2 separate regions of the Homo sapiens genome follow, and region 1 is linked to region 2. The links come from fine-mapping of genetic effects on gene expression. A gene starts in region 2. The other region holds a variant in brackets. All regions are shown on one strand. Distances are between the middles of the regions. Region 1 has its middle 30 kb from the start of HHEX. Region 2 holds the start of HHEX (hematopoietically expressed homeobox).

Region 1 (11,562 bases), 30 kb after region 2:
CCAGGGCTCAGAGGGGAGGAAGTATGTGTTGATTGGTCCATGGGCAGCCATAGGTGACCTGGAGGAGGCACAAGTCCCCACTCCAGTCTGCGGGACTGGCAGCCCAGCCCCCAGCCTTCAGGCCCTCTCTGGCCTGAAGGTGTGGCCTTACTGGAACCTGCTCCCTTCCCTCCAGGAATCTGTCTGCCTTCTGCTGCCATTCATGACCCCGGGGCTCAGCCCCAACCCTGCTTGGAGATTGGAGCAGGCACTGGGAGAGGAGAGGCCAGGCAATGGGAGCAGACAACCCCAGGCCTGCAGGTATGTTTGGGGAGGGGCCTTCTTGGGCCCCCGCGGGTGCAGGCTGCAGAGATGCCTGGGTCCTGTGCCTGGGAGGGCAGCTGCAGCTGCACTCTGGGAGCTACCACCCCTCCAACTTGGAAGCCTCTTCCTCTGCTTGTCCCTGGCTCCTGCCTGCTCTGTGGAGCAGGAGGCCCAGGTCTACAGCTGCAGGTCCAGGGGCTGCAGTTGCACCCAGGAGGGCAGATCCTGCCTGCTCCTGGCCACCCTCAAGAGTGAGGGGAGGCTTGCGTCCACAGCTGCAGTTTGGGTGCCCGTATCCCCACCCAGGGGGGCAGGGCCCCTGCCTGCTCAGTAGAGCAGGAGGCCTGGGTCTGTGGCCATGGTCAGCTGCCGTCATTGGGATGACAGTCATGAGCCACTAGCCTGACCCTTCCTTCCTCTTCTCACCTTCTGGTAGCTCCTGCAAACTTTGGAATTCCTTGGTTTGTAACTGTGTTACTCAATCTCTGCCTTTATCTGCACATGGCCTTCTCTCCTGTGTCTTTCTGTGTTTTTCCCTTTTTTTTTTTTTTTTTTTGAGACCGAGTCTTGCTCTGTCGCCCAGGTTGGAGTGCAGTGGCTCAGTCTCGGCTCACTGCAAGCTCCGCCTCCCGGGTTCACGCCATTCTCCTGCCTCAGCCTCTGAGTAGCTGGGACTACAGGTGCCTGCCACTGCGCCTGGCTAATTTTTTGTATTTTTAGTAGAGACGGGGTTTCACCGTGGTCTTGATCTCCTGACTTGGTGATTTGCCTGCCTCGGCCTCCCAAAGTGCTGGGATTACAGGCGTGAGCGACCGGTTTTTTCCTTTAAGGACACTAGTCATTAGGTTTAGAGCCCACCCTTATCAAGTATGATCTTACTTTAACTAATTATATCTGCAAAGACTCTATTTTCAAGTAAGGTCACATTTTTAGGTTCAGGATGGACATGAATTTTGGGGGGAACACTTATTCAGCCCACCCTGGTGGCTGTACCATGTCGCATTCCCTCTAGCAATGCCTGAGAGTTATAGTTGTTCCCAATCCTCACAACTTCAGGCTTAGCAACTTTAGGAGATAGAATAGTTTCATGAGAAGTCTCAGGACTGTCTCTCATTGGGCTGCCTTGGCATACATGCGTGTTCATCCTTGAACTTATCGCTACAGCCCAGACATGGAACATGATGGTTGGCCAGGATGTGGTCATATCCCTACTCCTAAAGGTAGGGATGGGGAGGGGTCAGTGCCACATGAATCACGTAAATTGATTGTGGATAAGGGGCTTCCTGGAAGAAAACTAGGGAGATGTTAACAGAAGAAGAGGAACTGAAAGATTGTCAGGTAAAAACAACTAATTTCCTCTACAAATAGGAAAGTGCCTTTTGCAACCGCTCCTTATCAGTTTCCAACAACTGCTGGAATCAAAGCAATTGATTGTTTTCTATGTGCCAGGCACTATGCCACGTGTTTTACATGGCTCCAAGTTCCCCAGCATTCCTCTGGGGAAGATTCCATTACTCTCACCTTTTTTTTTTCTTTTTTTTTTTTGAGGTGGAGTCTCGCTCTGTCACCCAGGCTGGAGTGCAGTGGCATGATTTCTGCTCACCGCAACCTCCACCTCCCAGGTTCAAGCGATTCTCCTGCCTCAGCCTCCTGAGCAGCTGGTATTACAGGCGTCTGCCATCATGCCCAGCTAACTTTTGTATTTTTAGTAGAGACAGGGTTTCACCATGTTGGCCAGGCTGGTCTTGAACGCCTGACTTGAAGTGACCGCCGACCTCGGCCTCCCAAAGTGCTGGGATTACAGGCATGATCCAACGTGGCCGGCTCACCCTTTTTACATGTAGGAAACTAAGACTTGGAGACTTTGGATAACATTGCAAAAGTCATGTAGCTATTAGGGGGTGACCCTGGATCCTGGGCCAGGTCTGCTAACATCAGTGCCCACTATACTGTCCTTGTATTTCTCCCCAGTCTCCCAACCAGCCAGTCTGTCCCTGTCTACCTTGATTTGACCCTTTCATTGACATGCATAATTTCTTGGAGTGGTAACTTTTTTTTTTTTTTTTTTTTTTTAACATTTCAGGGCTTCTCCTAGGGATAACCTCTGCTTCCTGCTGAGTTCTGGATCTAGAGCACAGGCAGGTTTCCTCCCCTTTCTCCTGTAGCTACTGAACTCTGACTTTGTAGTGGTGGAGTGTCTGGGGCCCAAGAGAGATTTCTGTCCTTCACCTGGCAATAGTAGACCGCTAATTTATATCAGAGTGTGTTTCTTGCCCCTCCCCCAGGGGCAGACAGGCACTACCTTGTCCTCAGACAAGGCTCAAAGCATGAATGGGCTTCCCTAGGTATGCCTGCTCCACCCTAAAACCTTGGCAGGTGCTGTAGGGCTGTACCACCAAGGGGGAAGGGTCTCCCAGGCCTACTGTGCTGTTTCCAGTCTTTCTCATGCATGCCGAGTAGAGGCCAGTGGAAAAGGATGGCAAGCAGATGGGGATTTCTCTGTGTCCAGCGTGCTCAGGGCTTCTAAACTGCCATGCTAGCTTATCCTTTGCCGGTAAGAATTTGTTTTCTTCTTATCCAGTTTTCTGATGATTGTCTGTTCTTCCCATTCTCTGCCAAAAGAGGAAACAGCTGGTGTGTCTTGTCCCTTTTTGGAAGGACTTGTGAGCCTTAGGAATTCAGTTCCCTTGATTGCTTTGTATAACAGCGCAATTCGCTGATGGACTAAAACAAAATTATGGTTTTGTATGTCTTATAGGTTATCCATTTTTTAATGTATTTATTTGACACATTGCGGGGTTTTTTTTTGTTTTGTTTTTGAGACAGAGTCTCACTCACTCTGTTACCCAGGCTGGTGCACAGTGGCACAATCTTGGCTCACTGCAACCAACCTCTGCCTCCCGGGTTCAAGCGATTCTCCTTCCTCAGCCTCCCGAGTAGCTGTGATTATAGGTGCCCGCCACTATGCCCAGATAATTTTTGTATTTTTAGTAGAGATGGGGTTTTGCCATGTTGGCCATGCTGGTCTCGAGCTCCCTCCTGACCTTAGGTGATCTGCCCGCTTTGGCCTCTCAAAGTGCTGGGATTACAGGCGTGAGCCACCGCGCCCGGCTGGTTATCCATTTTTCTCTTGTGTATGCCAGCCTCACAGAGTGTGGGATATGAGAAAGAAAGGATCCTAGGGTCGAATAAACTTGAGAAATTTGTCATGTCTTATCCTCTTCTGGATATTTACATGGCACATTCATATCTTAAAGACCCTGAGAATTCCTGCAAAATAGAGAAATACATATATATTGAGATGGAGTCTTGCTCTTGTTGCCCAGGCTGGAGTGCAATGGCACAATCTCGGCTCACTGCAACCTCCGCCTCCCAGGTTCAAGCAATTCTCCTGCCTCAGCCTGTCAAGTAGCTGAGATTACAGGCGTGCACCACCACACCTGGCTAATTTTGTAGTTTTAGTAGAGACGGGGTTTCACCATGTTGGTCAGGGTTGTCTCAAACTCCTGACCTTAGGCAATCCACCAGCCTCGGCCACCCAAAGTGTTGAGATTGCAGGCATGAGCCACCACACTTGGCCTTGAGAAATAAATTTAACTTTGTTTAACAAAGTGTCCCTAAAGTTTGTTTGATCATAGAACCCTTTGCTTGTGTAGCACTCATTATTTCCCTTAGAATTAATATTCTGTGAACACCGTTCGGAAAATAGAGGCTGGATGTTGATGTTTTATTGTCTGGGAACCTGGAACCAAAATAGAAAGCCAGGATCCGTAAAGATAGTAACAGAATTGTTGTGGGTATTTCTAGAACCAAAAGCCATCCTGGAGATTGGGTGGAGGTTCTGGGTGATACCGAGGCACTCAGCAACGGCCTTGGTCAGTAGTCCGTGTTTCATCTTGTATGCTATAACTTCAGAGATGGCCGGGTGTGGTCACTCACTCCTGTAATCCCAGTGCTTTGGGAGGCCGAGGCGGGTGGATCACTTGTGGTCAGGAGTTTGAGACCAGCCTGACCAACATAGCAAAACCTCGTCTCTACTAAAAATCCAAAAATTAGCTGGGCGTGGTGGCAGGCACCTGTAATCCCAGCTACTTGGGAGGCTGAGGCAGGAGAATTGCTTGAACCCGGGAGGCAGAAGTTGCAGTGAGCAGAGATTGCACCACTGCACTCCAGCCTGGACAACAGAGTGAGATTCTATCTCAAAACACAAACAAAAACAAAAACAACAAAAGACTTCAGAAAGGATACCTGGATGAATGAGACACAAAGTCAAAATAAAATGTCTGGAAGTCTCTAGATCATTCCATGGACTCTCCTTTCTGACACACCCATCTCACTCTCTGAAACCAATAAGAAATCTCTTCCTGGCCCCTGTGTTTATATGGCTTGCTCCGATGGCTGGTGCTCACCAACCCTGCTGTGGTTGGGGCAGACCCTGAATATGGAGCTGCTATGATATAGTAGGGCTGGATGCCAACCTGTTTTGTGGATCTTCATCCTAGTTGTAAATGATTTCTCAGCCTCAAATTAAAACTCCTTGGCTTCTGGGCCCTGGTCTACCCCAGGGATTTGAGAGTGGGCATTTGGTCTCTCTGCTCTGTGCCCCTCAGTTCCATCACCATCCCTTGAAGTAGCCTAGACACCTGTTGTTTTCAGCTCCTTGCACCCTTTTTATTTTTGCTCATGGGACACCACCTCTCTCCTCCATCCCATATTCAGGTGGGTCTGCCCGTCCATAATTGCTGGTAGGGACCAAAGCTGGGGTTCAAACCCAAAGGGTCTGATTCCAAAACCCACTTTCATAAAAATTACTCTAGCTTGCTTCTTGGTACCAAATTACATTGCTTTTCATTGCATTTAATTTTTAATACTCTAGATCGTGAAATACACTACAGAGTTTCTCTCCAGTCATTTGGATAACCACATGTCAGACAATATCTGAGTCAAGGTTTAAAATTACAGAAAATAAACCAAAGTTCTCATCTCACAACAGGGAAAAGTATCATCTTACTAGTTTTAATGGTGGCAAAAAATTAAGGTTCTGTTTGAAAAATTATTTTTTCTCTAAGATCCTTAGTCCTTTTTATTCCTCAACTACATCAGCTAAAATGTGGCCATGTATGATGATTATGGAAGTGAAGAGCTTTTTCTGAAGGATACTAACCTAATTACTCTGGAAATATCAACCATGAATCAAGAAGTATATTATGACTTAATTGTTCATTGCACAAAATTTAGATAATCACTCATTTCTTCCATGCCTTCCCTCTCTCCATCTAGAAGCGTATTTAACTAAGTAATCAGGGGTACTAACTATTCACAGCCTAGGCAAGTGTAGGGAAATAACCACCTTAATAACACATTGGCAGCCTCAGAAATGGCTGGCTATGAATAAGCACATAGCACTTAGTCTGCTCCTTCTTATGTGTTTGCCAATACATTTGCAATTTCATGCACAGTTTTAAATGTTAAGCATTAATCTGAAATGGGCACTGAAGCATCAGTAAAGTCTACAATTTGCCCCCTTTAATGAAAATGCTAGATATAGATTTAATGCAAAACTAAACATTTGGCTCAATATGTTCTACTCCAGTAAATTAGCTAGTGTTTGTCATCTTTTTAAAAAAACAGGGGCTGAATGCCTCATTTCACATGGTTTTGTTAGGGACAGATAGAAAGCTGATAAACAACCCATTTGTTCTATGACAGTAGCTCCTCGTCACACTACTGAAGTTAAGCTTCAGTGCTCATTTCCTTTACAAATCCTGTTGTGAGTTTAAGTGGCCTGCTGTTGAATATTTGACTGAAGTGTAGCCTTGACAAGAGTGTTTTCCCAGAGGAATACAGACGAAGCTTTTTTGGACAGTGGCCCTAGAGCAGTGGATTCTGAAATGACTCAGTGAACCTGAAAGGGAACAGAGCATCAGGGAGCCCTACTGTGCGCTATTTGAAA[C/T]TGTCAGAGATGTTATCCCACAACAGCCTGAACAGGTTCATGTAATTGCCCTCTACTTGGCCAGATGAGGAAACCGAGGGCTAGAGATGAAGCTGTGTAGCTAGGAAGTGATGAAACCTGGATTTGACCCCACTCACTATTTCACACTGTCTGGCAGCTGGGAGCTGCCCTTCCTATATCTCTACCAGTGGTGCATTATTTGTCATTCAAGGAGCTTACACATGCCACCTCCTCCAGGAAGTCATTGCTGATTGCTCACTATTAACCATCCTTCTTATGTGTTTTTATTGTACTTTATCTGTTTCCAATGTAGTCCTTAGGACATTCTGCCTTTTGGTACATTAATTTAATACCTATCTGACTCTTTATAAGAGAAAGGGCTATCTCTTACATTGACCTTGTATATACTGCAGGACTTTCACTATCAAAGGCACTCGATAAATGTTCATTGAGGCTGGGCATGGTGGCTCACACTCCTAATCCCAGTACTTACAGTGGCCAAGGTGGAAGGATCACTTGAGGCCAGGAGTTTGAGACCAGCCTGTGAAACATAGCAAGATCTCATCTCTGCAAAAAAAAATTTTTTTTGAGACAGAGTCTCTCTGTGGCCAGGCTGGAGTGCAGTGGTGCAATCTCAGCTCACCGCAACCTCTGCCTCCCAGGTTCAAGTGATTCTCCTGCCTCAGCCTCCCAAGTAGCTGAGACTACAAGCTCGTGCCACCACGCCCGGCTAATTTTTCTATTTTTAGTAGAGACAGGGTTTCACCATGTTGGCCAGGATGGTCTCGATCTCCTGACCTCGTGATCCACCCGCCTCAGCCTCTCAAAGTGCTAGGCTTACAGGCATGAGCCACTGCACCCAGCCAAAACTTTTTTTAAAAAAATTAGCCAGGCGTGGTGGGGGGCACCAGTAGTCTGAGCTACTCAGGAGGCTGAGGTGGGAGGATCGCTTGAGTCCAGGAGGTTGAGGCTGTAGTGAGCTATGATTGCACCACTGCACTCCAGCCTGGGCGACAGAGTGAGACCTGTCTCCAAAAAGAGTTAAAAAACTGTTCATTGAAATGTTTATAAAATAGGTGGTTCTCAATATCTCATATCCTATTTCCAGAATTATGAAGAACAGTACAGTCAAGGGGGCAGGTCTTGCAGTAAGCCTGACGGGGTTTGAATCCTAGCTGTATGACCTTAGGAGAGTTGCAGAGCTTCTCTGAGTTTCAGATTCCTTCCGTTATAAAGCAAGGATAGGAATAGTATCTACTGCAAAAGGTTGTTGCAGAAGTCCAATAAGAGAAGGCACACATAGTGCTTAGAATAGTGCCTGGTACATAGAAAATGCTCACTGAACCTTGGCTATTATTTTCCAGAAATGTTTGGAGATTTTTATAGCATAGGCAAGAAACTTTGTGGCACTGGTTGTTTACCATTTTAAAACGTAAAAAAAAAGGAAATATTTGATTTGATTAATAGCTGAACTGACAACGTGCAAGAACCATTTAATAATGACCAATCATGAAAGGTTATGGAAAAAGAAATGATTTAAGAAGGCCAAGAGCCAGGCCAAGGTATTGGTAAGCCCTGAACTCATCACATGTCTGGAGTCGACAGTTCAATCAGTTCTAGTTTTGAATATGGGCAGGAGCTTTTTGTAAAAAAAAAGTTTTGGGGCAATATGCATATGGCTTTCTTTTCTTTCTTTCTCTTTTCCTGCCCCCTGGGCAATATGTGTACTGCTTTCTGAGAATGAGTTTCCAAATAATTGTGTACCTACTGATGCAGGTGTCATAATTTCCAAACCCATCCAATCAATATGTACCAGACAGAGATCTGCTCACAGTTCAGAGAGCTAATTTGGTAACTCCAGTGGGCCATTCTGTTCCTTGTTCTGGATAACCAACTAACTAACCTACTGCCTATTGAACACTATTTGACTTGGGTAAGCCCCTCAACATCCCTTTGAGCTTGAATCTTCTTACAGATAAATATGGATCAAAATATGGATACCTCTCCTTCCTTTCCCTCTTTGGACCTCAGTTTCTCATCTGTAAAATGACCAGGTGGCCTCTTAGTCCCTCCTCTGGCTAACCTTCCATGGTTCTGCCTCCCGGGGATGCTGTAAAGTCAGTTCAATGATACTGACTAAACTGCTGTGAACTTCCTGACCCAGGGCCCAGCTGGACACCAACTGACTAGGAGAGTTGATGGCTACACAGGGAAGAACTGCCTCTCCTCAGCTGCCGGACAGGGAAAGGAGGGGTGGGGCAGCTGCTGATGGCTATGTCTTCCCCTGTGTCCTGGTCACCTGGCCTCTGCTTGCATGCAACAACTCTATTTTTGAACAGGAGGTGGGTGGCAGGAGGGCCCAGAGGTCTGAATTTTCTTAAACAGCCAGGCATCCTTGGGCTGACACGGTGTCCTAGCTCTCATCAAAGGACATGATGAATATATATAAAGCGAAGCTACATGAGCAGCCCACTGTGAAGGGAGGAGAAGGGCAGGAGGTCTTGAAGCCTAGATTCTTTGGCTCCAGGTGGCTGGAAAAGTCAATAGCTCTAGACAGTTTCCCAAGCCGGCTGCGCACCAGCAGCACTTGGAAAGGTAGTTTGAAGTACAGATTTGTGGGCTGTAGCTTAGAACACTCTGATTCAGTAGGTGAATGGCCTGAGCATCTTATTTTTAGCAAACTCCCCAGGTGGTTCTCGTGCACAGCGAGGCTTGGGAATCCCTTTGGTTTAGGTCATGGGGAGATAGAAGTGATAAGAGAAGAATGGCTGGTGAAGCACATCAGCTCCACCCATGCTCCAGTGGGGTCAGTAGTATGTGGCATCCCAGCTCATTCCAGCTGTGCCATGGTTGTGTCTTAAAATCTCAAAGCCTCGATGCTTATTTCTAAAATGGGAATCATACTGACAACCCCATAGTATCAATGTGAGGGTGAAATGGATGATGCCCATAAGGCACTTAGCAGGGGGCCTGGCACAGAGTGAGCATTGAATAAATGTCAGTTATTGTCATTATTGTTGTTGTTAACATTATTATGGAGGGCCAGGTGCGGTGGTTCCCACTTGTAATCGCAGCACTTTGGGAGGTTGAGGTGCAAGAATTGCTTGAGGCCAGGAGTTCGAGACCAGCCTGGGCAACATAACAAGATCCTTTTTCTACACACACACACACACACACACACACACACACACACACACACACACACACCTACCTGAAAAAATTAGCCAGGTGTGGTGGTGCATGCCTTTAGTCCTAGCTACTCAGGGGGCTGAGGAGAGAGAATCACTTGAACTCAGGAGTTGGAGGTTGCAGTGAGCTATGATTGTGCCACTGCACTCCAGCCTGGGCAACAGGGTGAGACCTCATCTCTTAAAAAAAAAATTAAAAAGAAAAGATTTTTAAATTCTTAAGAAAAACCCAAACAAAAACCATTATTAACTAATGAAGCACTTGGCCATTCCTGGCTGTTGTTCTCTTCCTTATTGTAGGGTGGGTGTCTTAGTTTGGGCTGCTAGAACAAATATAACAGACTGGGTACTTAAACAACAAGCATTTCTTTCACACAGTTTTGGAGACTGGAAGTCCAAGGTCAAGGTACCGACAGATCCAGTGTCTGGAGCGGGCCCACTTTCTGGTTCATAGATGGCTGTCTTCTCACTGAGTGCTCACATGGCAGAGAGCAGAGAGACACAAGAAGCAACCTCTCATGTCTCTTCTTAGAAAAGCATGAATCCCATTTCTGAGGGCTCTACTCTCATGATCTAATCACCTCCCAAAGCCCCTGCCTCCTAATTCCGTCACACTGGGGGTAAAGATTTCAGCATATGAATTCTGTTCAGTCCGTAACAGTGGGATAGCCCTGGACAACATCTAAGGTCTTGTTTGCTAGATGATTTGCTCCAGAGCCCCCAAGGAACTGCACTTGTAACACATTTTACAAAGATGACTCATGAAAGTAGGGCTAAAAAATGTTAATATTATTCAATCTGGGTGATGAGTATTTAACTGGCTATTAAGATATTCCTTCAATTTCCTTGATATTTGAAATATTTCATAACAACAACAGCAACAATAAACTAAGCTAATATTCATAAATGCCAGCTGATTGGTTCATGTTAATCCCAGCTGGTGTGACCTTGATCAAAATGGGTAAGCAGGCAAAATGGCCTTCAGGACCCTCCAGCTGTGTGACTATACTCCCCTCTTTGAGACCCCTGTCAGTCCCTCCCAAGTTCTTCAGCCACCCAAGACCTCCCTTCCTCAAGGACCTGTTCTTCCAGAGCTCCTGATCTCATCTTGGAGCTAGTTTGATTGGAGGTATTAACAGTTGATGGTGGCTTAATTTCGATTTCTGCTTTTTCTCATAAACCAAGTGGCATACACGTCAGACCCCTGCCTGTGAGTGATGAGGACATTTTGATGGAGGGTGAAAGTTGTACACTACCCTCGCAAACTACTAGGTGTAAAGCTGCTCCCTTTTTGCATGGAAAGGTCAACTCCATTTCAACATTATAATGTTCAGTTTCTGTTCAGAGCAATTCAGAATGGTGCCAAAACAACTGCTCAATTCAGGCTTGTGTGTGTGTGTGTGTGTGTGTGTGTGTGTGTGTGTTTAACCTGTCAGTTTGTTGGTTGAAAAAAAAAGTGATGAGTTGCCTTTATGTAAACAAAATAGCCAGTTAATTGACTGGGATTTTCACTTTTTAACCAGTCATCATTGCAAAGACAAAGAGAACTTTTGCTAAGTTGCTTTTCACAATGTCACACAGTCAAACAAGCACACATTCAAGGTGAGATTTTCCTTTAGTTACTATCCTTCTCTGGTGTGAATACCTAACCTGATATCAAATCTTTCTCTTCTTCCTTCACAGTCCTCCAGATGTGCTTTGATTTCCTTAGTGTCTTAGTTTTCTCCTGAGGAGCCACCTCTCTCTCTTGGATACCTGCAGCGCTGCCCAAACTTCAATCATTCCCATATGGCTCTCCTGGTTTTTGCCATATCCATGTACCACCCTTCCTATCATTGAACCAGCTTTCTTTACATAAAATCACTTAGAAAATAAGTTTATTTTTGCCAGGCACGGTGGCTCACGCCTGTAATCCCAGCACTTTGGGAAGCCGAGGCCGTTGGATCACCTGAAGTCAGGAGTTTGAGACCAGACTGACCAACATGGTGAAGCCCCATCTCTATTAAAAATACAAAATTAGCCGGGCATGATGGTACATGCCCGTAATCCCAGCTACTTGGGGGACTGAGGCAGGAGAATCGCTTGAACCCAGGAGGGAGAGGTTGCAGTGAGCCAAGA
Region 2 (11,562 bases):
TTCACCTAAATTCACCAATTAATAATTTTCGATACAGGCATACCTCATTTTATTGTGCTTCACTTCATTGTGCTTTGCAGATATTGCAGTTTTTACAAATTGAAGGTTTGTGACGCCCCTGCATCAAGCAAGTCTATTGGCACCATTTTCCCAAGAACATGTGCCCACTTCATGTCTTTGTGTCACATTTGGGTAATTCTCATAATATTTATTGTTATATCTGTAATGATGATCTGTGATCAGTGGTCTTTGATGTTACTATTGTAATCGTTTTGGGGCACCACAAACTGCACCCATATAAGACAGCTAACTTAATAAATGTCGTGTGTTCTGACTGTCCTACTCACAGGCTGTTCCCCAGTCTCTTTCCTTCTCTCCTTGGGCCTCCTTATTCCTTGAGAGACAACAATATTGAAATTGGGCAAATTAATAACCCTACAACAGCCCCTAAGTGTTCAAGGAAAAGCAAGAATTGCATGTCTCTTTCAATCAAAAGCCAGAAATGATTAAGCTCAGCAAGGAGGCCATGTAGAAAGTTAAGATCCACTAAAAGTTAGACAGCGCTGTGAACACAAAGGAAGAGTTCTTGAAGGAAATTTAAGGTGGTACTCCAATGAACAAATGAATGCTAAAAAGTGAAACAGCCTTATTGATGATCTGGAGAAAGTGCAAGTGGTCTGGATAGAAGATCTAACCAGCCACAACATTCCCTTACACGAAAGCCTAATCCAGAGCAAGGCCCCAACTCTCTTCAATTCTATGAAGGCTGAGAAAGGTGAGGAAGCTGCAGAAGAAACGGTGGATGTTAGATGAGGTTGGTTCACGAGGTTTAAGGAAGGAGGCCATCACCATAAGTGCAAAGTGAAGCAGAAAATGTTAATAGAAAAGGTGCAGCAAGTTACCCAGAAGATCTAGCTAAGATCATTGATGAACGTAGCTACACTAAACTGATTCTACACGTAGACCAAAAAGCCTTCTATTGGAAGAAGATGCCATCTAGGACTTTCATAGCTAGTGAGAAGTCAATGCTGGCTTCAGAGTTTCAAAGGACAGTCTGACTCTCTTGTTAGGTGCTAATGCAGCTGACATTTAAGTTTAAAGCAATGCTTATTGGCCATTCTGAAAATCCTAGGGCCCTTAAGAACTATGCTACATCTACTCTGCCTGTGCCCTATAAATAAAATAACAAAGCCTGGATGGCAGCACATCATTTTACTGTGTGGTTTACTGAACACTTTAAGCCTACTGTTGAGATCTACTGCCCAGGAAAAAAATATGCCTTTCAAATTATTACTGATCATTGACAATGCACCTGGTCACCCAAGAGCTATGATGGAGATATACAAAGAGATGAATGTTGTTTTCATGCTTGCTAACACAACATCCATTCTGCAGCCCATGAATCAAAGAGTGATTTTGATTTTCAAATCTTATTATTTAAGAAATATATTTTGTAAGGCTATAGCTGCCATAGATAGTGATTCCTCTGTGGGCAAAGTCAAGTAAAACCCTTCCAGAAAGGATTCACCATTCCAGAGGCCATGATTCATGGGAGGAGGTAAAAATATCATTAACAGAAGTTTGGAAGAAGTTGATTCCAGCCCTCACAGATGACTTTGAGGGGTTCAAGATTTCAGTGGAGAAAGTAATTGCATATGTGCTGGAAACAGCAAGAGAAATAGAAGTGGAGCCTGAAGATGTGACTGAATTGCTGCAATCTCATGATACAACTTGAATGGATGAGGAGTTACTTCTTATGGATGAGCAAAGAAAGTGGTTTTTTGAGATGGAATCTACTTCTGGTGAATATGCTGTGAACATTATTGAAATGACAACAAAGGATTTAGAATATTACATAGCTGGATGTAATGGCTCATGCCTGTAATCCCAACATTTAGGGAGGCAGAGGCAGGAGCATAGCTTGAGCCCGGTAGATCGAGACATGCCTGGGCAATGAATGGAGCGAGACTCCATTCTCTACAAAAAGGAAAAAAGAAAAAAAAAAAAGGACAAAAAAGAGAGACTATTACACAACCATACTTGATAGAGCAGCACAGGGTTTGAGAAAATGAACTCCAATTTTGAAAGTTCTACTGTGGATAAAAATGCTATCAAACATCACCACATGCTACAGAGAAATCTTTTATGAACGGAGGGGTCAACAGATGTGGCAAACTTCATGGTTGTCTTTAAGGAATTGCCACAGCCACCCCAACCTTCTGTGCCTCCCACCCTGATCAGTTAGCACTCATCCACATCAAGGCAACACCCCTCAAAAGCAAAAAGATTATGACTTGCTGAAGGCTCAGATGATTGTCAGCAATTTTTTTTTTTTGAGATGGAGTCTCACTCTATTGCCCAGGCTGGTAGTGTAGTGGCATGATCTCAGCTCACTGCAACCTCTGCCTCCCGGGTTCAAGCACTTTCCAGCTAATTTTTGTATTTTTAGTAGATACAGGGTTTTACCATATTGGCAGGCCGGTCTTCAACTCATGACCTCAAGTGATCCGCCAGCCTTGGCCTCCCAAAGTGCTAGGATTACAGGCATGAGCTACCACTCCCTGCCAATCGTTAGCAATTTTTTAGTAACAAAGTATTTTTAAATTAAGGTATGTACGTTGCTTTTTAAGACATAATGCCATTGCACACTGAATGTAGTAAAGTGTAAAGATAACCTCCTTTACATGCACTGGGAAACCAAATAATTCATGTGACTTGCTTTATTGCTATGTTTATTTATTGAAGTGGTCTAGAACTGAACCTGTGATATATCCCTCTTTATATATACATATATGAACATATACATAGATATGTGTGTATAAATATACATGTAGATGTGTATGCACATATATGTATATACTGAAGTATTTAAAAGTAAGCTGCACATATGACCCATCACTCCTAAAGACTTTAGCTTGCAACTCCCAAGATCGCATTTTCCAAAGTAACCTGCAATACCAATCACATCTAAAAGATTAATAATGTCAACTAACATATACTTCATAGTTTGTCCCCATTATCCCCCCCCCCAATAAAAAGCAATGTCTTTTATAGTTTTTTTTTTTTTTTTTTTTTTGAGACAGAGTCTGGCTCTGTCACCCAGGCTAGAGTGCAGTGGGGCGATCTCGGCTCACTGCAAGCTCCGCCTCCCGGGTTCACGCCATTCTCCTGCCTCAGCCTCCTGAGTAGCTGAGACTACAGGCGCCCACCACCACGCCTGGCTAATTTTTTGTATTTTTAGTAGAGACGGGGTTTCACCGTGTTAGCCAGGATGGTCTCGATCTCCTGACCTCGTGATCCGTCCGCCTCTGCCTCCGAAAGTGCTGGGATTACAGGCGTAAGCCACCGCGCCCGGCTCCTTTATAGTTTTTTAAAATCCAGAATCCAGTTAATTGGGATGATATGAGGCCTTGTGAAAATCCTCATCCTCAACATTTCACGTGTTAGTTGATGATGATTCTTCTTGAATTATTACGTTTTTCGATTGTACCAATTTTTCTACATCTGTTAGCTGACATTCTTCCAGCTTTCACATCCACTGCACCTTTCTCTCTCTGAGTACCACTATGGACTCACGAATTGTTATATTCAAAGTGGTATAATCCCTAATGTATTTTTAAAGCTTAAATCACCCCAAATTTTGCCGATGGAAACCACTCCAAGGTGGTCCCTATTTTCTTTTCACGGTTTCTGACACAAGATGTCTTTGAGCTTACCTTGTACTTTTCTTGCCCTAGATCTAGAATCAGCCACTTCTTCAAGGACTTACTTATACGACGAATAGGTCATACATCCATCTAGTGCAAGTCTCCAGATATTCACAGCTATACATGCCCCCTCCAATCCCACCCCTTTCTTCATAGTCAGCCAATGTTCGTTATCCTTCCAGAGATAGTTTATATCATGGAGTAATATAAAAATTTATGATTTATATGTACTGTATAATAGAGCAATTATATTCTTACCTACCCCCAACATGCTTTAACTCGAATGATAGTGTAGTACACTTCTGAGTTTGTCTGGGCTTGTAGCTCTTGTCTGTCATTAGATTCTGAAAGATACCTATTAACAATACCCTAAAAAGATCAGGAGCCTTTAGGCCAAGTCTCAAACGTTTCAGATGAGAAAAACTCAGGGATGGTGACTTGACGGAAGTTGCATTAACTAACAACGCTCACATGCTATTCTCCGGACTTGGAATGTCCAAGCACCCTGGGCTTGCTGACACCCACTCACTTTTCAAACATCAATTCTTGGGAAGCTTTTCCCTTCCTTAATGTCCCCCAGATAGGTGATGTCCCCTTGTTACAGGTTTTAGACCATTATGTACATCTCCTTCCTAGCACATACATATATTAAAATTTGTTTCCTGTCTCCATGAGGAGAGGGACTACATCTGTCCTTTTCACTGCTGGCACACAGTAGTTGCTCAACAAAAATGTGCGAAGTGAAACTCGAACAGGCGGTCAGGCTCACAGTCCACGCCTCTTCCTACTGTGGTCCCGCTGTGTTTGGACAAATAGTTCCAAATTATAAACTTTAAAACCTGAGAAGTCTCAATAGAAAAAGCAGGGAAGTCTTTCCATTTCCATGATTAATGGAGGACCTTAGCAGAAACGGCTCACCGCGAGGTGTGACGACCGCAGGAGGGCGTCAATCAAGAAAATGCCCCCTTGCCCCGGAGGCGAGTGGAGCCGCACAGAGCCGAGGCCATACGGGCCAGCAGTACGGACTGCTTCAATAGAAAACACGTGCAAAACCAGAGAGCCAGACTGCGCACAGCTGCGACCCTCAAGAGCCAGCAGAAAAGACACGGAGCGGCCCCCACTGGATTGAAGACTGCACAGCCTCTGCCCGGCGCTGTAGGACCCGGGCCTCCCCTTGATTGCTGCTCGCAGCGGCTTCTGCCAGCATCCTCGCGGAAGTGGCTTGAGTCCGAGGCCTCCAAATGAAACCAGGTGGAGCGGCCAAGAGTCCGCAGCACCTGAACTCCAGCCATCCGAATCCCGCCGGGCCGCAGCTAAGGGCCGCCGAGCAGCCCTAGGAACCCAGGGCACTGTCCCGCTCTGAGCTCGGGAAACGGCCGGTGTGACAGCCAGCGCCACTGTTAATCCAGGGAGCGCACCCACCGAGGAGGCGTCTTAGGCCAGCGGCCTCTGCTCCCGCCGAGTCCCGCTGCTCCCCGCCTGGAAACAGCTGCTGCCACCCCGGGCCCAGGCCTGGACGGCGCCCCCGAATTTCGGCAGAGGTGCCTCGGGGCCGCGGACAGGGCCGCTGGAGCCCGCACTCCAGAAGGCGGTCTTCCTCGCGCCTCCCCCGACGGACGCGGCCCAGGGCTTCCCTCGAGGGCGTCCTCGGCCGGGGTGCCTGGAGTCCCCAGGGGCGACAGCCGCGGCGGGGCACCAGGGCGCCAGTTCCCCGGAGCCTGGTAGCAAGCGCGTCCCGGGGGCGGGGAGCTTGGCCGGCGGGGCGGGCCGGGGTGGGGGCGGGCGGCTGCTCTTGGGGCCCCGCGCCATTGGCCGCAGGGCCCGGCGGCAGGAAGGGGCCAGCGAGCGCGGCCCCACCCCGCGGCCGGCGGAGCCTATCGCCGGGAGCGCGGAGCGCGGATAAATGTAGCGCCGCGGCGCGGGCCAGCAGCTCTGCGAGGGGCCGGAGCGCGGCGGAGCCATGCAGTACCCGCACCCCGGGCCGGCGGCGGGCGCCGTGGGGGTGCCGCTGTACGCGCCCACGCCGCTGCTGCAACCCGCACACCCGACGCCCTTTTACATCGAGGACATCCTGGGCCGCGGGCCCGCCGCGCCCACGCCCGCCCCCACGCTGCCGTCCCCCAACTCCTCCTTCACCAGCCTCGTGTCCCCCTACCGGACCCCGGTGTACGAGCCCACGCCGATCCATCCAGCCTTCTCGCACCACTCCGCCGCCGCGCTGGCCGCTGCCTACGGACCCGGCGGCTTCGGGGGCCCTCTGTACCCCTTCCCGCGGACGGTGAACGACTACACGCACGCCCTGCTCCGCCACGACCCCCTGGGTAAGGCGGCCGGGCGAGGGTGGGGGCGAGGAAGCGCCACCCGGCAGGTGGCAGCGCCCGGGAGGCCGAGGGGGCGAAGGGGGCAGGCGGTAGACGGCTGTGGCAAAAGCGATGGAAAAGCAGCTGTCGGGCACGCGCGGGGACGGGAGGCGCGCGGCCGGGGCTGACCGCACCGTGACTCAGATTGGTTTTCCTGCACCTTGCAGGCGTCGGGGCGCGCGGGCCGGCGGTAGACCTCGCGGCGAGGGCAGCCGTGGACCGCGCGTGTTACCCGGGGTGGGGCTCCCTTAGCGGGAGGGACGGGGAAAGGGGCGTCGAGGCGCCCCTGGCCGGCCCCCGTGGGGCAGGGATCGCAGCCGGGCCCGGGTGGCTACGGGGCTGGACCTGGTTCAACAGGCTTGTGCAGTGAAAGAGCCTGACCCTTTCCGTTCATACAGGAAATCTTGAGTTCTCGATAGGAGTAAATCTGGTTTCAGAAGCTGTTAAGTGTTTTCCTGGCTGCATGAAGCAGACCCTTCCCCCGGAGTAGTGCACGCTGCTGATTATTTTATCGACATCCTCAATACAGACAAATTCAGGAAACACTCGACTTCTGATAGCCGGGATCCGTTTTTCTGATATTGTTCATTTCCTCTGTGTGGGATGTGACTTTATGGCAGCTAAAATAACCAGTTGCTTCCTATTTTTTTTCGAGGCTGTTTTGCACCAGTCTGAAGCCTGACGCAAGCAAAATCTCGAAAAAACAATGCTAGCTTTCAAAGCGTTGAGGTGCAGGCCTGCAGACGGACGGACGGACCGACCGACACTACTTTGGGAGTAGGAAGCAGCAGCTCCTGGTCGCCAGTTAGGAAGGGAAGCAGGGACACATAGGGCATATATTCCAGAACTTCGGGGCTTGTCCCCTCAATGTGCGGCCTAACAAATAAGCCGCCCGTGGTCCGCGCTGTGGGTGACCCTTGGCGCCTTCGAGGTCTGGAGCCCTAGGGTAAATAAGGAAACGGGGCGCCTCTAGAGTTTTAAATGAACTCTGTTATTGGAAGCTTCAGTAGGGACCCTGAAAACAATTAACGTCTTAATTAGCATTTTAATGTCTCCATTATTACGGCGCGGGCTCTAGCTCAGCCCTTTACCTTACCTTCTCACCGTTAACAGGGGAGGGGGATTGTATTTTTAGTTCATCTTTTTATGTTTTTGAGTTGTTATCCTGTCTGTCTGATTCCAGCCTCGAGGGTTTGATGATGCGGCCCGAGCCTGGCTGTGGTCGCCTGTCGGGGCTGGAGCGGGACCCTCAGCCGGGCCGGGCCTGGGGGCTAACGTTTTCACAGTGCGCCCTGAGTTTCCTTGGGTTACTGCTGGGACCGCGCAGGAGGAAGCAAAGAGTTTTTCGAGCTAGACCAACAGGAAACACATTGACGGAAATGTTGCCATAGCCCATGGGGTGGCTTTAACTGGCCGCCCCCGCGGGCTGGGTGTGAAATCAGAGGAGGCCGCGGCTCCCCCGGCCAGGATTGGAGGCTCCTCGCGCAACCTAATGCGGGTGTCCGGGCCCGAGCGCTTCCCGCGCAGCCAGGCCTTGTCGGTGCAGCAGCCCCGCTCCTCCCCAACACGCACACACCCGGTGTTCGCAAGTGCGGCTCACCAAGGGAGATCCAAGGGGGCAAAAAGTTATGTATAAATCCGAGAGCCACTGGGGAAAGAGGGTCGTGGTATTGTAAGCCCAGCCGGTAGTGCCCATTCTTTTTGGGGTTAAAGGTATGTCTGGATTTAGTTCTAGGTGTGACGGCTGTGTGTCTGTCTGTGTGTGTACAAGGCTGTGTGCATCTGCGGTGTCAGTGTGTGACTTTGGGTATGTTTGTGTGTCGGTGGGAACGTGTTAGGTCCACGTGCCGGTGGGTGTATGTGAATGTGTCTGGTTGGGTGGCCTCCTGGCCTACCTTTGTCATCCCTGGGGCCCGACAGCTCTGGGGTCTGGCCAGGCCGCTCCAGGGCAGTGGGTGAGCGCCGCTCTTCCCGCTCGCAGGCAAACCTCTACTCTGGAGCCCCTTCTTGCAGAGGCCTCTGCATAAAAGGAAAGGCGGCCAGGTGAGATTCTCCAACGACCAGACCATCGAGCTGGAGAAGAAATTCGAGACGCAGAAATATCTCTCTCCGCCCGAGAGGAAGCGTCTGGCCAAGATGCTGCAGCTCAGCGAGAGACAGGTGAGCTCGCGGGGGGCCTGGGGCCGCCTCCGGGGAAGGGAAGGCTTCTGGGGTAGGGGTCGCCGGGCCACCGAGAGAGAGGCGAGGAGCCACCCTGCCCTCTGGCACGTCCCGACGCGGGCTCGTTGCAAGTTTTCTTTCTCTCTTTCCTGTAGGTCAAAACCTGGTTTCAGAATCGACGCGCTAAATGGAGGAGACTAAAACAGGTATGGACATGGTTCTGTTTCTATGGAAATAAATATTTTTATCACGTTATCTCAGTGCAAGGCTGTTATGGGTTGTATGCAAAAGTCATTTAAGAGACTATTTAACCTCTTCACCTTGATTAAAAAGACAAATAGTCCTGCTGAAATTCAGGATGAGTTGCTCAGGTGGCAGTAATGCTAAAAGCACCTAATGGGGTTCCTATATCAATTATGCTTGGGTTTTCACACACTGGCTAGTAAAACTCCCAGCTAATTGTTTTATAAATCCCATATGTTGTTTATCTAATTAACGCAGGAAAGATAAAGTAATTGACAGTAAATGACTTAAGCAGTTATCTTTGGGAGAAAATTGTTTCTTTTATTTACACAGCCATAATAAAACCAGGCAGAACTCAAGGGTAAATATAAAGAAACAAACACCTTTAAGTCTTGTTTGCACTGTTTTTTAGAAGAATTAAATGTCAGGGAGTTTAAAAATTATTTTCTATCTAATGCCAGCTCTTAAAATGAAATATAAAACTTGTAAGAAAATATTCAAGCCTGTTTGGAAAGTAGCTTAAACTTTCTGACAGTCTTTCTTCCAGTGACCTTGTTTCGCAATATGTGATAAAAAGTAAAGGCTAATTTAGTTTTTAAAAGAAGGTCTATTGACTTAAAGCTAAACATTCATTTTTGATGTCCTAATCTGGATATACTCTCCAAAGTTATCTGATAATTGCTGAATTGTTCACTTGTCATTGTATATACGGTTTATAATAAATACTTTGAAACAATGAGTGGAGAAATTTAAAGCAAAGTGGATTTTAAAATTTATTGATCATTACTTTTTCATTAAAAAGAAAGTGTCCCAAAGAATATTTTGAAATAGAAAATAAAATTCCCATAACTTCATTACTGTAATGTGATTTAAATATTTGCAGATCCACTCTCAATTTCTGACCGTGTGCATCTATTTGTTGAGACTATAAGGCTTGCAACTATATAACAAATAGATGTTGTAATATTTCTATGTAGTATTTATATGCATTTTAGACAAGTATAGGATTAAAAATTCACTAGCTTATATACTTAATAGTTCTTGGTCAAAGGCTTGACTCTAGTTTACCAGAGACCTTAAAAATAGTGGTTTCTATGTAATATGGGGATATTTCCCAGAAATTTGCCCCAGATTTTAAGTAAATTGTAGCTAATTGTCTACCTTCTCAGTTGGCAGCATTCTTCCAGATCCACATTTTTTTTCTTTGCCATGATTTTGTAACTTGTTAAACATTTACACATGTAGATGTTTATAAATTTACTCCAGAAAATGAATGAAAAAAGATCCAGTCTAATAATTGAAACTTTATTCTTAATTCACCAGTTAGCATTCTTATTTTTAAAATGTCTGAAAGACTGTTAATTGGCAAGGTTTAAATATTTAAAGAATGAAGTTAAGGTGTATCTGTAGTGATCTGATTTTCTTTCCCCCTTAAACTTTTGAGAATATTGAAACCATGGGTCTGGGCTGGTGTTAAGTAACCAGAATTTGTGTTCAATTGGTATAATGTATCTGCCCTTATGTTCATGACTGGTTCTCATCTTTTAAGCATATAATCTTTGATATGACAGAAACTTTTCTTCCAAAGTGAGCAAAAAGCACAAGTATGTATCTCCTGAATAAGATTATAAACTGAAAACACTCAGTAAACTAAAAATTAAAAGATGGAATAGGATGAAGAGACATTTTGATTTATTCCTCTCACCTATCCATATTTTATGATCCTTCCAATCTCCATTTTCATTTCCTTTATTCAGGAGAACCCTCAAAGCAATAAAAAAGAAGAACTGGAAAGTTTGGACAGTTCCTGTGATCAGAGGCAAGATTTGCCCAGTGAACAGAATAAAGGTGCTTCTTTGGATAGCTCTCAATGTTCGCCCTCCCCTGCCTCCCAGGAAGACCTTGAATCAGAGATTTCAGAGGATTCTGATCAGGAAGTGGACATTGAGGGCGATAAAAGCTATTTTAATGCTGGATGATGACCACTGGCATTGGCATGTTCAGAAAACTGGATTTAGGAATAATGTTTTGCTACAGAAAATCTTCATAGAAGAACTGGAAGGCTATATAAGAAAGGGAATCAATTCTCTGGTATTCTGGAAACCTAAAAATATTTGGTGCACTGCTCAATTAACAAACCTACATGGAGACCTTAATTTTGACTTAACAAATAGTTTATGTACTGCTCTTAGGTTGTTTTGATAAAGTGACATTATAGTGATTAAATTCTTCCCCCTTTAAAAAAACAGTTAGTGGTTTTCACTATTTATAAAAAATTAATTTTGAACTTTTTGTTAAATTTTTAAGTTATAGCTTTAAAGGTTTTAATAGGACCTTCTTGAACGACTTTTCTGTAATCTGTTTATCTCCCACTTAATGGAAAGGCAAAGGGGTACCCCAAATCCAGAGGTGCCTACATTTCAGGCAGCCTTGGAGTATTTTAAAAGGAAAACATTCTTTACTTTTATATGACATTCTTATACTGCTGTCTCAAATCCAAAAACATTTCAGAGCTCTTGTCTCAGAGATGTGTGTTCTTTTTGTCAGAGATATGGTTGATGAGAATCTTAAATGCTTGTTTTGCACTATCACTTAGTACCTGTTTGACCAAGGTGTTAAGGGGATAGTACCTCCCAATTCAAGCAGAGAAACTGACCTGACTAAAGTTAATCGCAGATGAACTAGAAGTCACAGGTTAATTAAATGTAAGTAGATTGTAGATACTGTTTTATATCAAACAATGTTTATAATGTGTATATAGAATTGTTCACTGTAAAAAAAATGGCCAAAATGTGTTTTTTTTTTAATAAGTAACTTGACTATAAAATAAAGCCGTCCGTGGGACGACTGACCTCGTTGCAAGTCTAATTCTTTGATTTTAAAAAGTCTGCACACCTTTTCTTGACCTCCTGGGTGCTTGGCGCGGTGCTGGGCTCTGGGGACAGGAAGTGACTGGGGCTGGATCTTGCTGGGGCTCTCGTTCCGAGTCCCAGGACCGCGGGTGGGTGCCTGGAACGTGGGTTGGGGCCTCTCCCGGGCCGTTTGCCTTGGGGCTCTGCTCCTGCCGGCGGATTCTGAGCCTGATGGGTTCG

What was found. PIP is the estimated chance that this variant, and not a neighbour inherited with it, causes the effect.
Region 1: its variant is fine-mapped to the expression of HHEX in whole blood (TOPMed, PIP above 0.99).

Annotation. Positions count from the first base shown.
Region 1 is chr10:92,714,489-92,726,050 of GRCh38, forward strand. No RefSeq gene overlaps it. Among named protein-coding and RNA genes, the nearest start is that of HHEX, 30 kb to the left of the region's middle. RefSeq lists an enhancer at 5,788-6,343. The variant C/T (reference allele first, on the strand shown) is at 6,257.
Region 2 is chr10:92,684,320-92,695,881 of GRCh38, forward strand. HHEX (hematopoietically expressed homeobox) reads left to right here and starts at 5,636. Exons shown (of 4, transcript NM_002729.5): 1 at 5,636-6,028; 2 at 8,049-8,227; 3 at 8,383-8,433; 4 at 10,228-11,328. The coding sequence starts at 5,668. The coding sequence ends at 10,449. RefSeq lists silencers at 5,127-5,366, 5,437-5,756, 6,177-6,256, 6,267-6,416 and an enhancer at 6,947-7,754.